Homo sapiens: one gene and its partner. The protein of the gene in region 1 interacts with the protein of each later gene in a pairwise test. Each region holds a gene or a part of one and is shown in the gene's direction. Other genes may lie near its edges.

The links. The genes of interacting proteins can lie anywhere in the genome.
Region 2: the proteins of RASSF7 (region 1) and SNAP29 interact in binary tests that used the Homo sapiens proteins (3 or more experiments, as listed by UniProt).

What each region holds. Positions count from the first base shown.
Region 1 is NC_000011.10:556,280-563,996, forward strand, and holds the start of RASSF7 (ras association domain-containing protein 7), read left to right. Parts: upstream 1-4,690; 5' UTR 4,691-5,198; intron 5,199-5,482; 5' UTR 5,483-5,489; coding exon 5,490-5,613; intron 5,614-5,799; coding exon 5,800-6,497; intron 6,498-6,909; coding exon 6,910-7,038; coding exon of another isoform or gene 7,039-7,101; exon of another isoform or gene 7,102-7,116; coding exon 7,117-7,199; exon of another isoform or gene 7,200-7,278; coding exon 7,279-7,366; 3' UTR 7,367-7,717. Other genes in the region: LMNTD2 (lamin tail domain-containing protein 2), read right to left, coding at 1-96, 213-309, 556-818, 1,120-1,208, 1,293-1,361, 1,605-1,775, 1,882-1,969, 2,335-2,487 and 2 more. UniProt on the Homo sapiens protein: Negatively regulates stress-induced JNK activation and apoptosis by promoting MAP2K7 phosphorylation and inhibiting its ability to activate JNK.
Region 2 is NC_000022.11:20,876,007-20,883,033, forward strand, and holds part of SNAP29 (synaptosomal-associated protein 29), read left to right. Parts: intron 1-5,042; coding exon 5,043-5,128; intron 5,129-7,027. UniProt on the Homo sapiens protein: SNAREs, soluble N-ethylmaleimide-sensitive factor-attachment protein receptors, are essential proteins for fusion of cellular membranes.

The sequences.
Region 1 (7,717 bases):
ATGCCGCTCAGGTCGGCCGTGCTCTCCTGCGACGGGTTGAAGATGCGGACGAACTTCTCCCGGCAGCTCACAGCCACGATCTTCAGGCCTGTCGGGCTGGGAAGAGAGGAGACGCTGTGAGGAGATGCGGCCGGTCCACCCGCACAGCTGCGCGCCCCGCCCGGAAACCAGCTCCAGTCCGGCGCCGGAGGCTTGGGTCACTCGCCCCTTACCTCTGCAGGAGTTCCGGGCTCCAGTGGTCCGGGTCTGTGCAGGGCTGGGGCGACAGGACCGGCTCGCCGTGCCTGGGTGAGTGGGTTTTCTGGAGATCTAGAGAGAGCAGCGCTTTTGGGGAGGGGACCCTCGAATGGAGTCCCCACCGGATGTTCCCCGTGAGGTCAGAACAGGCCTGCAACGCCTGGCGGGGCAGGGAGCAGGGCCAGGGTCAGATGGGGCAGGAAAGGTGGCTGGACCTTGGGGGCTGGAGGGCCACCTCCAGGGCTCTGAGTGAGATCACAGCTCTGAGGGGGTGGAGGGTGGGTGAAGGGTAACCAGGGGAGACCCGCCCCACTGCACCTTCTGAGTCCCTGCTGTAGCTGCCGGCCTGCACCAGCGCTTGCTCGGAGGAAGCGCGGTGGTCCCGGGGCGGGTGCCCTATCACCTGCACGAAGGAAGGCAGGCCCGGCCGGCAGCTGCTGGAGTCGGAGTCAGCGCCCCCTGAGCTGCTGGTGTTCAGACAGGGCAGGGAGCCCCACTCCACGGTCTTGTGATGCCGCTCGGAATGCTTTCCAGAGGACTCTGGGCTCCCTGTGTCCAGCTGTGGCCAGGGCCGGGGCTGCCTGTGGACCACGCTCTGCTTGATGGCCACTCCAGCTCCAGACCCCAGCCCTGCCCCCGTCCAGCCTCACAAGGCAGTGCAGCAGGGAGCCCCTCTTGCCTCCCAGTACCCAGGCTCAGTTCATGGCAGGACAGTGATGGCTGCCTCAACCCCAACGCATTCTACAGATCAGAGAACGCGCATTGGAAGGTTTAAGAGACTTATCCAGGGACACTAAATGGTCCTTTAGTGTCCTGCGTCTTCACTTGCCAAGGTGAGCCCTCCCTTCTGGCCCCTGGGGAGTCCCTGCTCTGTGCAGTTACTTTTGCTTTGAGCTGGGCTCCATGTTGGTGAAGAGGTTGGGATACCGGCGGGCAACGCTGTTCCAATCCACGTCCTCCAGCCGAAAGCCCTGGCCAGGAAGCAAGAGGCACATGGTCCTCCCCTCCCGCAGGGCTCCAGATACCAGACCACACACGTGGGAGGCCTAGCTCACCTCCCCGGTGGGGGCCTGAATGTTTTCAGAGAGGTCGCTTGGGTCCATCAGAGTCTCTGCCGTCACTACCTGCAAGAGGGGACCGGAAGCCAGTGGGCAGGGGCTGGGTGCTCCCCTACAGCACCTCTCCTCTTTGACCTCACCTGTGCTTTGAGGCCTCCTGATTCCTCCCTGCTGGAGCCCAGAGTTCCAGAGGCACCTGAGCAGGGCAGGCTTCCAGGCAGGCCAGGGCGCCCCAGCAGAGGCACCCGACGAGATGGGGAGGGCTGGGGAGGGCAGCCTGGGGCAGGAGGGCTTGGGGGACAGGCTCACCTCCACACTGCCAGTCTGGGATCGTAGCATGCGGCCCACCCACGAGGAGCGGGCCAGCTGCAGGAGGCAGGACTTCTGCAAGTTCTGCAGCTCGGCCTCCATCTCCTGGAGCGTGCGGGTGGTCTGCAGCAGCCGCTCCTCCAGGTGCTCCTTCTCCTGCTCCGAGAGGGCCTGTGGTTGGTGGTGGGGGGGTGTCTTCTGCAGAAGGCCCCCAGGCCAGCCCCAGCCTGGCTCCCCAACACCAGGACCCTGCCCACTCCCTGTGCCCCTGCCTCACCCACTGGGCTCGCTCCTTCTGTTCCTTCAACTCCTGGATCAGCTTCTGGACCTGGTTCTGCAGGAGTTTCTCCTGACTGTGGGAGCTCCTGGAGGAGGGGTGACCTCAGCAGCCCCCACCCTGCTCAGGCAGGGGTTCCTAATGTCAGGTCAGTGGCGAAGGAGGGGAGAAGGAGGGGCTCCACTGCCACCTTGGCCCCAAGGGCACACAGTACAGCCCCGCTGGGGCTGGCCAGCCTCCGGCTGGTCTGGACAAGGGTCTAGCACCCATCCACATGCGCAGGGTTAGGGTGGAGGCTATAGCGTGTTAACTTAGGATCAGGGTGGAGGGTCAGCGCGGGCAAGGATGAGGGTAAGGATCTGCCTCAGCGGTTGGGGTTGGGGTCAGACAGAAACCAGGAGTCCGGGCGAGGACAGGGCGGGGTTGGGTTGGGCTGGGGACTGTGCTGCAGACCTCTTGGGCGGAAGCCCCGCCACCTCTTCCAGGATGTGGCAGAGCCGGGCGTCCTCGCCATTCTGGATGGCCCACCGCAAGGCCTGGATCTCCAGTTCTCGCTGTCTCCACAGCAGCCGCAGTGTGCGAGGGTCCAGGGACTCAAGAGCCAACCTGCAGCGGCAGCAGACCCTGCTGCTTACTCAGGCCGGCCCCTGGCCACCTGGCCCAGGAGGCTCACCAGTCCTCCCTCTCCTCCTTACTGCGGGTCGGCAGAGCAGACCACCGGTGCGGGGTGGGGCGTGGTGTCTGGCAGGCACGTGGGAGTCTCGGGGGCTGCAGGTGCGCCTGCTGGAGGTCCCAGGTGACCACTGACCGACTCTTGCTCTGTGGGGGACAGGAGAGCCTCTTCCTCGGTTTCTTCAACCTCCTGGCCAGACTTGGGGGCCATTCTCAATGTTCTTCGGGAGCTGGGAGGGGTGGGGGGCCCGTCTGCCGTGTGCGCCTCGTGTGGCCACACAGGTTGGAGCAGCCCAGGCGTCACCACTTACTCACAGAGCGTTGCTCTCTGAAGGGACCCACATGTGGGTGTCCACACCCGTGTGTTTCTGACCAGGCTGGCGCAGCAGGTCACCACCCGACATGTCCCTGGCGTGTACCCCTGCCACCCAGGTGCTGGCCCTTTGCCTGTGATGTGGTGTCCCTCTTTCTCTCTCTTGTCCCCCCAGCTCAGGGCCCTACCCCCAGCACTCACCTGAGGCCCGACCTCCAAGCAGGCCTGGGAGGGAAGGGCTGTATACCGTTGCCATGGATACCAGCACCCAGAAGGGGTGGGGCTGTTTGTTACCAGGAGCCTCCAGGGAGACCCCAGACCAGGCCCCTAGGTGAGTTCTGGGCCAGCCCAGCCTGGAGGAGGTGTGAGAGGCTGAGCCACTGCTCAGCTTAGCGGGGGGACCACTTAGTGACCAACACCCTGAGGGAGGCCCCAGCATCCCCTACCTAGCCTGGCAGCAGCAGCGGGATAAATAGGGGGGCACTGCTGCCTGTGAGCCAGCCCAGCATAGCCATGGGTGTGTGGGGGAAGCAGACAGGTAACAGTGACAAGCTGGGGACTGTGCTGAACGCTAACTGGCAATAGTACACTCCTGCCCACAGCCTGTTTTTAAATTAATAATTAATTCTTTAGAGACAGGGTCTTGCTCCGCTGTCCAGGCTGGAATGCTTCGGTGTGATGACAGCGCACGTTAACCTCGAATTCCTGGGCTCAGGTGATCCTCCCACTTCCGCCTCCTGACTTGCTGAAACTACAGGCACCCGCCTCCACCGCCAGGCCCAGCCCACAGCTCCTTTGACCTCAGTGACAGGCACTCACCTACCTGACCCCCAAACTGAAGCCTCACTTTTCCCAGCCGTGTCCACACCCTCTGGGCTACCCCATTACCATGACAAGTATTCCCTCTGCTCCAGGAGAAAAGCCAGGTCCCAGACCTGACCCATTAAAACCCAATCATTCCAGCTTTCACCCTTCATCTCTGCAACTTTCGGCTATGTAAGGGCTCCCTGGGGGAGCACAGGAGACAGGCGGGCAGGAGGCCCACGCCCACAACTCTTTCTGAGCTGGGCAGAACAATCAATGGCCCACACAGCTGACCGCGAGGCTGCGGGGCCCTGGGCGGGACAGTAGGGTAGGGGGTGAAGGAGCGGCTTCCAGCCAGCTTCACTGTGTGCATGGCCTGGCACTGGGTCCAAAAGGGGCAGGAAGGTGTCGGAGAAGAGCCTCAGCTAGAGTCCGGGCCTTCTGAGCGGGCACCTCCCGCACCAGGACTCTGCGCCCGCCAGCTCCGCAGGGCTCCACCTCCCTCGCCGGGACTGGTGACCCTGCGACCCCGCGACCCCTGCGCGTCCAGACTACTGCAGCTGCGGTAGGCCCCAAAGGCTGGCCCGGGAAGCGAGGGGAGGGGCTGGCCCCGCTGCCCCTGGACGCAGGCGGGGGTTGCGGGATCTCAAGCCAGAGACCCTTCCTGGGCGGGAACCCGCCACACTAGAAGGCTGCTGAGGAAGTCGGCCCAGGAGCGGGGCCAGACACCTACCCCGACGCCTGCCCGCGGGCCGCAGCCACCGCATTTCCGCGTTTTTCGCGGTAGGCGGGAGGTGGGGGCGGGGACTGCGGCTCGGCGCCCCCCTCCGACCCGCCCACACCTGTAGTCTCGGGGGGGGCGGGGCGCGGCGACGAGCCAATGGGTCGGGGAGGGGCGTGACAGAGGCAGCCAATGGGCGCGGGGAGGGGGCGGAACGCCCGCGCTGAGCAGCCAATAGGGGTGCTAGGGGCGGGGCGTGCGGACCGCGGGCCAATGGGGGCGCGGGGCCCGGGTGCGCCGCGGCGCTGGGGGCGGCAGGTTGCGGCGGCGCCGGAGCGGGTCTCCAGGCTGGCGAGCGCCCAGGTGAGCCGCGCCGGGTCCCCGGTACTTGGGAGCGCGGGGCGCGCCTCGAGCCGGCCGGACGCCGACTCCAACTGGGGAGAGTTTTCCGCGATGCCCGGACGGAGAGCGGGGGCGGCGCCGCACCTGCGCCCGCCCTGCGGAACGGGGACGCCCTGGCTCCCGCCAGGCTGGGGTCGCGGCGCGGGCTTCGGTGCCCGCGGCGGGGACCGGGACTTTCGGGGCGAGCGCAGCGATTAGGCGGCAGCGGCGGGGCTCCCCGGGCTGGCGGGGGCTGCTCAGACCCGGAGTCTGCTCCATCTGCAGGGTCGAGGTCTGGGTTGCGACCCCGAGCGCCTCTGCGGCCTGAGCAGGTCGGGGTGGGGCGTTCCCATGCCGGCGGCCGCGGGGCCTGGCGTGCGGGCGCCTCCGCGCCGCCCGGGGAGGGGGCAGTGTCCTCCGAGCCAGGTGAGGCGAGTAGGAAATGCTGGATCTGGTTAATGATTCGCCTTGTTCCGGGAGTGCGAGCGTGGCAAGAGGAAGCTGGTGAAGTGGGGGAGGATGCGTGCTCCGGAGGGCCGCCACCCCAGGAATGTGTGGCTGGCGGGTGGGGCTGGCACAGGAGGGTGGGGCCCGTGCGGAGGGGCGGCAGCCCAGCCGTTTCTAGGGCAGGCCAAGAGGATGAGGAGAGGAGGACCAGCCTGCGATAGGAGTAGGCAGGTCCTGACCCGGTGCCTGCGCCCTCCCCACAGGACAGGCATGTTGTTGGGACTGGCGGCCATGGAGCTGAAGGTGTGGGTGGATGGCATCCAGCGTGTGGTCTGTGGGGTCTCAGAGCAGACCACCTGCCAGGAAGTGGTCATCGCACTAGCCCAAGCAATAGGTGAGTCCTCTCGGGGTCAGGCAGGCCGGGCAGGTAGAGCTGAAGTGGGACCTGGTGGTCCAGCTCCATGGTCTCCCCCAAGGAGAGTGGGGCTGGTTGCTGATCCTTTTTGTTCTTCCCAACTCTTCAAGCCAGGTGGACAGAGAGTCGGGGGGACATAGGCTGACCTTCTCCTCTTCTTCCCAGGCCAGACTGGCCGCTTTGTGCTTGTGCAGCGGCTTCGGGAGAAGGAGCGGCAGTTGCTGCCACAAGAGTGTCCAGTGGGCGCCCAGGCCACCTGCGGACAGTTTGCCAGCGATGTCCAGTTTGTCCTGAGGCGCACAGGGCCCAGCCTAGCTGGGAGGCCCTCCTCAGACAGCTGTCCACCCCCGGAACGCTGCCTAATTCGTGCCAGCCTCCCTGTAAAGCCACGGGCTGCGCTGGGCTGTGAGCCCCGCAAAACACTGACCCCCGAGCCAGCCCCCAGCCTCTCACGCCCTGGGCCTGCGGCCCCTGTGACACCCACACCAGGCTGCTGCACAGACCTGCGGGGCCTGGAGCTCAGGGTGCAGAGGAATGCTGAGGAGCTGGGCCATGAGGCCTTCTGGGAGCAAGAGCTGCGCCGGGAGCAGGCCCGGGAGCGAGAGGGACAGGCACGCCTGCAGGCACTAAGTGCGGCCACTGCTGAGCATGCCGCCCGGCTGCAGGCCCTGGACGCTCAGGCCCGTGCCCTGGAGGCTGAGCTGCAGCTGGCAGCGGAGGCCCCTGGGCCCCCCTCACCTATGGCATCTGCCACTGAGCGCCTGCACCAGGACCTGGCTGTTCAGGAGCGGCAGAGTGCGGAGGTGCAGGGCAGCCTGGCTCTGGTGAGCCGGGCCCTGGAGGCAGCAGAGCGAGCCTTGCAGGTGAGCCCGGGGACCTGATCCCCTGTCACTCCCCCACCCCTGATATGGGCAGATACGGGGATCACAGGGTCCCACTCGGGAGGCAGGTGAGCCCGGGGACCTGATCCCCTGTCACTCCCCCACCCCTGACGTGGGCAGATATGGGGGTCACAGGGTCTGACTCGGGAGGCAGGTGAGCCCGCGGACCTGATCCCCTGTCACTCCCCCACCCCTGACGTGGGCAGATACGGGGGTCACAGGGTCCCACTCGGGAGGCAGGTGAGCCCGGGGACCTGATCCCCTGTCACTCCCCAACCCCTGACGTGGGCAGATATGGGGGTCACAGGGCCCGACCAGGGAAAGTGCTCCCTCCGGAGCACAAGGGCTGTGGAGCCCAGTGGCTGTGCCTCCTAAGGATCTCATGTGTCCCCAGGCTCAGGCTCAGGAGCTGGAGGAGCTGAACCGAGAGCTCCGTCAGTGCAACCTGCAGCAGTTCATCCAGCAGACCGGGGCTGCGCTGCCACCGCCCCCACGGCCTGACAGGGGCCCTCCTGGCACTCAGGTCGGAGTGGTTCTGGGGGGAGGCTGGGAGGTGAGGACCTGGCCCAGCCCCACTCCAAGCTGACTTCCCAACCCACAGGGCCCTCTGCCTCCAGCCAGAGAGGAGTCCCTCCTGGGCGCTCCCTCTGAGTCCCATGCTGGTGCCCAGCCTAGGCCCCGAGGGTATGTCTGTGCCCCACCTCCCCCTGGGGCACCGGGCCCTCCTGTGGCTGCAGCCACCTCAGCCTGTGTCCTCCCGCAGTGGCCCCCATGACGCAGAACTCCTGGAGGTAGCAGCAGCTCCTGCCCCAGAGTGGTGTCCTCTGGCAGCCCAGCCCCAGGCTCTGTGACAGCCTAGTGAGGGCTGCAAGACCATCCTGCCCGGACCACAGAAGGAGAGTTGGCGGTCACAGAGGGCTCCTCTGCCAGGCAGTGGGAAGCCCTGGGTTTGGCCTCAGGAGCTGGGGGTGCAGTGGGGGACTGCCCTAGTCCTTGCCAGGTCGCCAGCACCCTGGAGAAGCATGGGGCGTAGCCAGCTCGGAACTTGCCAGGCCCCAAAGGCCACGACTGCCTGTTGGGGACAGGAGATGCATGGACAGTGTGCTCAAGCTGTGGGCATGTGCTTGCCTGCGGGAGAGGTCCTTCACTGTGTGTACACAGCAAGAGCATGTGTGTGCCACTTCCCCTACCCCAACGTGAAA
Region 2 (7,027 bases), on another chromosome or scaffold:
AAAAATTAGCCAGGGGTGATGGTGGGCACCTGTAGTCCCAGCTGCTTGGGAGGCTGAGGCAGGAGAATGGCATGAACCCGGGAGGTGGAGGTTGCAGTGAGCCAAGATCAAGCCACTGCAGTCCAGCCTGGGCGACAGAGACTCCATCTCAAAAAAAAAAAATGCAATAAATTGTGAGTAAAATTTTTGTGATCCTGTCAAAACCTTTAATCCATAAATGCAGGAATACTGTCACTTAAAAACTTTGCCTTTTTTTTTTTTTTTTTTTTAAGACAATGTCTCGCTCTGTCGCCCAGGCTGGAGTGCAGTGGTGCAGTCTCTGCTCACTGTATCCTCCACCTCCCAGGATCCAGCAACCCTCCCACCTCTGCCTCCCAAGTAGCTGGGACTACATGCATGGGCCACCATGCACTGCTAATTTTCGTATTTTTTGTAGAAACAAGGTCTCACTTTGTCTCCCAGGCTGATCTCAACCACCTGGGCTCAACTGATCTTCCCGCCTCAGCCTCCCAAAGTGCTAGGATTGCAGGCATGAGCCACTGTGCCTGGCCCACTTAAAAGCTTTTTTTTTTTTTTTTTGAGATGGAATCTCGCTCTGTCACCCAGGCTGGAGTGCAGTGGCGTGATCTCGGCTCACTGCAAGCTCCGTCTCCCACGTTCACGCCATTCTCCTGCCTCAGCTTCCCAAGCAGCTGGGACTACAGGCACCCGCCACCACGCCCGGCTAAATTTTTTTTGTATTTTTAGTAGAGATGGGGTTTCACCATGTTAGCCAGGATGGTCTCGATCTCCTGACCTAGTGATCTGCCCGCCTCGGCCTCAAAAGCTTTTAAAATAAGTTTCTCCTATCAAACTTCTGTTCAGTCATGCATTTCCTGTGTACATCATTATCACACAAACCCTTCGGCCTTCTCTGAAGTTTTGTCTCTTGGGAAGCCCTGTTTGTCCTTGCTGACAGCTTTCCAAGCTGCTTGTTCTCATTTCCACTTACAGCTCATGCGTTCCTGTCACATATGCACCCTTAATTTGAAATTCTCTAACTTATTTAAGACTTGGTTTCTGACCAGGAACCACCCTCTCTTAAACCTCTACTGTCTTATCACTTTTCTCAGTCTCCCTAGAAATTGGCTTTCTTGGCTGAGCGTGGTGGCTCACGCCTATAATCCCAGCACTTTGGAGGTTGAGGTGGGCGGATCACAAAGTCAGGTGTTCAAGACCAGCCTAGCCAACATGATGAAACCCTGTCTCTACTAAAAATACAAAAATCAGGCCTGGCACGGTGGCTCACGCCTGTAATCCCAGCACTTTGGGAGGCCAAGGAGGGTGGATCACCTGAGGTCAGGAGTTCGAGACCAGCCTCACCAACATGGAGAAACCCTGTCTCTACTAAAAATACAAAATGAGCCAAGCAAGGTGGCACACACCTGTAATCTCAGCTACTTGGGAGGCTGAGGCAGGAGAATCGCTTGAACCAGGGAGGCAGAGGTTGCAGTAAGCCAAGATCGCACCATTGTACCCCAGCCTGGGCAACAAGAGCAGAACTCCCTCTAAAAAAAAAAATTAGCCGGGCGTAGTGGCGCTCACCTATAATCCCAGCTACTCAGGAGGCTGAAGCAGGAGAATCTCTTGAACCAGGGAGGTGGAGGTTGCAGTGAGCCGAGGTCATGCCCCTGCACTCCAGCCTGGGAGACAGAGCTAGACTCCGTCTCAAAAAAAGAAAAAGAAAAAAATTGGCTTTCTTTGTGGGGGAGCCATTTTTCACAAAGAAACCATTGTTTTCCTCATTTATGTATTACCAGTATATATGTGATGGCACATAGAAAGAATAAAGCCAGCGTTGAGATGTGCAGGCTGAAAGGTGGCCAGGCAGACTCAGAAGCCAAGTGTCTCTTCCTACTCCCAGCATGGCAATGCACTGCCCACAGTGGTGCTTAGAGGAGCCAGTTCTGTGTTCTAGACTTTCAGTCACAGCTTCCGTGGGGTGAAATCCTGGAGTGTTAAATCCTTCCATTCACCAGGCTCTGCTGCATTCTACCCATAGCTGGAGCCCTGGGCCTGCAAAACCCTTAGCTTGCGGGAGTCTGGACTTGCTCTTGCAAGTTGGGAGTCATTAAAGACTTTAACTGAAGAGGTGCTTGCCAGTATTGCTTTAGAAAGATGCGCAGCACCCATGGGGAGTAAGGATTGGAAGGGAGGGAATTGAATTGAGAGGCATTGCCATAATCCTTGTTAAAGGTAAAGAAAAGCAAGGCAGGCCGGGCACGGTGGCTCAAGCCTGTAATCCCAGCACTTTGGGAGGCCGAGGCGGGCAGATCATGAGGTCAGGAGATCGAGACCATCCTGGCTAACACAGTGAAACCCTGTCTCTAAAATACAAAATACAAAATAAAATACAAAAACCCTGTACTAAAAATACAAAAAATTAGCCGGGCGTGGTGGCGGGCGCCTGTAGTCCCAGCTACTTGGGAGGCTGAGGCAGGAGAATGGCGTGAACCCAGGAGGCGGAGCTTGCAGTGCGTGGAGATCACGCCACTGCACTCCAGCCTGGGTGACAGAGCGAGACTATGTCTCAAAAAAAAAAGGCAAGGCAGAAGGAGAGGCTGGGTTTCTGGGCTACTTAGGGGGTGGGAGATCAAGAGGGCGTTTGTTTTGCCTGGATTACTGGGAGTAGCGCTGTGCAGGGGGAGGGCAAAAATTGCGAGTAACCCTGATTCCCAGATTGGCTGGCGAAGTGGTCAGGCTGCTGTTGAGATAGAGGAGAGCAGGCTGTTGGGGAGGCACAGCTCCCAGCTGGAGGCACCTGCCATACCTTAGGGGGCTCAGCAGGATGTCGGGGATCAGCAGGGCATCAGGCATAGTCTAAATGACTTTGAGTTGCAAGAGCTATCCCTGTCTACAGCCAGAGTCAGCAAACTAGGCCACGGAGCAAAATCAAAGATATTTTATAGGGACTTACGTGATGAGAAAAAAACATACTTTCACAACTTTTTAGTGACAAAATTTAAAATATAAAAACAGTGGCCGGGTGCAGTGGCTCACGCCTGTAATCCCAGCACTTTGGGAGGCCAAGGTGGGCGGATCACGAGGTCAGGAGATCGAGACCATTCCGGCTAACACGGTGAAACCCCGTCTCCACTAAAAATACAAAAAATTAGCCGGGCGTGGTAGTGGGCGCCTGTAGTCCCAGCTACTCAGGAGGCTGAGACAGGAGAATGGTGTAAACCTGGTCAGCAGAGGTTGCAGTGAGCCGAGATCGTGCCACTGCACTCCAGCCTGGGCAACAGAGTGAGACTCCATCTCAAAAAAAAAAAAAAAAAGTAATAGGCTGGACACAGTGGCTCATGCCTGCATGGCTGTAATCCTGGCACTTTTGGAGGCTGAGGCAGGGGGATCACTTGAGTAGGCACCTGTAATCCCAGCTACTCAGGAGGCTGAGGCAGAAGAATAGCTTGAACCCGGGAGATGGAGGTTGCAGTAAATCGAGATCACGCCACTGCACTCCAGCCTGGGCAACAGAGCAAGACTCTGTCTCAAAAAGAAAAAACAATTTAAGAATTGGCCAAGCATGGTGGCTTATGCCTGTAATCCCAGAACTTTGGGAGGCTAAGGCGGGCGGATCACCTGAGGTCAGGAGTTCGTGACCAGCCTGCCCAACATGGTGAAACTCTGTCTCTACTAAAAATACAAAAAATAGCCAGGTGTGGTGGGGGCCTGTAATCCCAGCTACTCAGGAGCCTGAGGCAGGAGAATCACTTGAACCCGGGAGGCAGAGGCTGCAGTGAGCCAAGATTGCGCCACTGCACTCCAGCCTAGGTGACAGAGCGAGACTCTGTCTGAAAAAATTTAAAAAAAAAAAAAAAAAAAAAAAAGCCAGGCAGGGTGGTGAGTGCCTGTGGTCTCAGTTACCCAGGAGGCTGAGGTGGGAGGATCACGAGCCTAGGAGTTAGAGACTTCAGTGTTTGCACCACTATACTCCAAACTTGGTGACAGAGAGAGACCCTATCTCAAACAACAACAACAAAAACAGTAATAGTTGAGTACAGTATTCTGGTAATATAAGTGCACTAATGAGAGGAATGAAACTCTTGAGGTTCTAAGTTTGTCATCTGAGGTGCACATGGTCATCTCTAAGGCCATTCTTTGCTCATGGTCATATAAAAACAGGTGAAATTTTGTTTTGTGTATTTTACCATAATAAAAATAACTTGGGGCCAGGCGCAGTGGCTCATGTCTGTAATCCCAACACTTTGGGAGGCCGAGGTGGGTGGATCACTTGAGATCAGGAGTTAGAGACCAGCCTGGCCAACATGGTGAAACCCCATCTCTACTGAAAATACAGAAATTAGCTGGGGATGGTGGCACCTGCCTATAACTGTAATATCCCAGCTACTCGGGAGACTAAGGCGGGAGAATCACTTGAACCCGAGAGGCAGAGGTTGCAGTGAGCCAAGATCACGCCACTGCACTCCAGCCTGGGTGACAAAGCAAGACTCCATCTCAAAAAAAAAAAAAAAGAACGGGGAAACAGTACAAAAACAGGAGGTGAGCCAGATGTGATCAGCAGGTCATTGTTTGCTGACTGTAGTCTAAAGTACCGGTTTGGTTGTTCCATGTGCTTTTCATCTGCCTGGTCCTAGGAATCCAGGTTTCCCTGAGAGAGGGCCACCTAACTCGATGCTACACTGCTTTTTTTTTCTTTTTTTTCAGTAAAGACAAGGTCTCATTATGTTTCCCAGATCTCACACTCGTGGGCTCAGGCAATTCTCCCACCTCAGTTTCCCAAAATGCTGGGATTACAGGCATGAGTCACCACACCTGGCTTAGCTGCCACACTTCTGAGGCAGGGGTCTTCATAAGCTTACTGCTTGGCCCACTGTGCTCCTGGGAGAAGCTGTTGAAATCCCTACTTTGGTCAGAAGGAGTTTGGCACAGAGGAGGCATTTGATTTTTAGCACACAGGCATTATGTGAAAAGACTGATAACATTGTCATAGGGGTTTTTCCTTTTTAAACGTTTTCTTTTTTGTGAACTTTTATCCAAAGATTGAAAGAAGCTATAAGTACAAGTAAAGAACAGGAAGCAAAGTACCAGGCCAGCCACCCAAACCTTAGAAAGCTGGATGATACAGGTAAGTGGATACCTGTGTGCACAGCCACATTTGAATTCTGGGGGGAGACCTCTAGGTTTGGCGTTGGTCCTTGGGGGGCAGTGGCAACCTCTCTGGGGAGGTGGGCAGGGGCCCCAGCTGCTGGCATCACCCATGCTAGCCAAAGGGCCTTAGGGACCCCGCATGCTCTTGCGGAGCTGGGGGTGTGCATTATGGTGGGGCTCCTCCTTCTCTCCCTCCCTCCCTCCATGGAGAGGAGAACAAGGAAGTGAGGGCCTGCATTCCATTGAAAATGAGCCTGCCCGGCCAGCCTGGTGCAGTAACACACGCCTGTAATCCCAGCACTTTGGGAGGCCAAGCTGGGTGAATCACCTGAGGTCAGGAGTTTGTGACCAGCCTTACTAATAACGTGGTGAAACCCTGTCTCTACTAAATACAAAAAAATTAGCCAAATGTGGTGGCACATGCCTCTAATCCAAGCTACTTGGGAGGCTTGGACAGGAGAATCACTTGTATCTGGGAGGCGGAGGTTGCAGTGAGCTGAGATCACGCCACTGCACTATAGCCTGGGCAACAAGAGTGAAACTCTGTCTCAAAAAAGAAAATGAGCGTGCCCATCATTGGTTCCTGCCTGTGTCATTCTCAATTGTTCCAGCAGTAAAAAGCCAACTGCAGAAAAACCCCTTGGTAAATAGAATACTGGCCCCTCAAAGCTGTCCACGTCCTAATCCCCAGACCCCGTGAGTGTGTTAGGTTATATGGCAAAGGTGGAATTACAGTTGCAGATGGAGTTACAATTGCTAATCAGCAAGATGGGGAGATTATCCTGGGTTGTCCAGTTGGGTCCAGTGTCATCACAAAGGTCCCTTTTAAGTGGAAAGAGAAGCAGGAGAGAGAGCAGCAGAGTCAGAGATCTGAAGATGCTGCTGGCCTTGAAGATAGAGAAAGGGGCCCACCTGCCAAGGTACACGGGTGAACTGTAGAAACTGCAAAAGGCGAGGAATTAGATTCTTCCCAAGAGCTCCAGAAGGAGTGCAACCCTGAGGACACCCCGACTCAGCCCAGTGAGACCCATGTTGGACTTCTGACCTCCAGAACCGTAAGACAAGTTTGTGGTCATTTGTCACAGCATCAGTGAGGGACTAATACAGCCTCCAGCCCAAGCAGAAGGAGCAGCAGCCACATGGACAAGGTGTGCAAGACAGTGTTGATCGAATCATTCCACTTCTATCAAGTGATAGGCCCAGAAACATCCCTTATCTGGAAAGGAATTTAGGGCTCCTGGGGCCTCCTCCATAGGCCCCCACAATAGCCAGGTACATTGAAATTGGTGCTAGAAACCAAAGGCTTACTGTGCTGCCTTCAAGAAAACGATACACCATGGAAGCTCTGGAACCCACCATGGTTGTGGTTGATGCAGCTGAGGAGAGCCCAGATGGAGGAAGAGCGGGGAGCAGGAGAGACTAACATCATCAGCACAGTTCATTCTGGAAAGGCAAGTGGAGGAAGTGAGTGTAAATTGAAAGGCAAGGGCTGGGAAAACCGGCCTCATCACACCCTGGAGAAGGGGCACAGGACACTGCACCCAAGACACAATTTTAAGGAATTAAAGAGAGTTTTTATTTGTGCAGTATATATTAACTTAAAAGACTGAAGAAAAAATCGACACAGTTTGCAGAATGGTTTCAGTTGGTTGGTGCTGGAGGAAATGTGCTAAGTCTAGAAAGTGAAGTTTCCCTGAAAGAGATAAACCGGGATGACAGGGCTTTTCCGTGTGCGTTTAGAAACTGAAGTTCATTCAAGCCAAGAAAGATAATTTTAAAAAAGAAGAAACTAAAAGTTCAAGGAAGATTTCTTGTGGCAAATGTGCATTATTTAACATTTCTTTTTTTTTTTTTTGCGTATTTGTTTCAAGTGCAA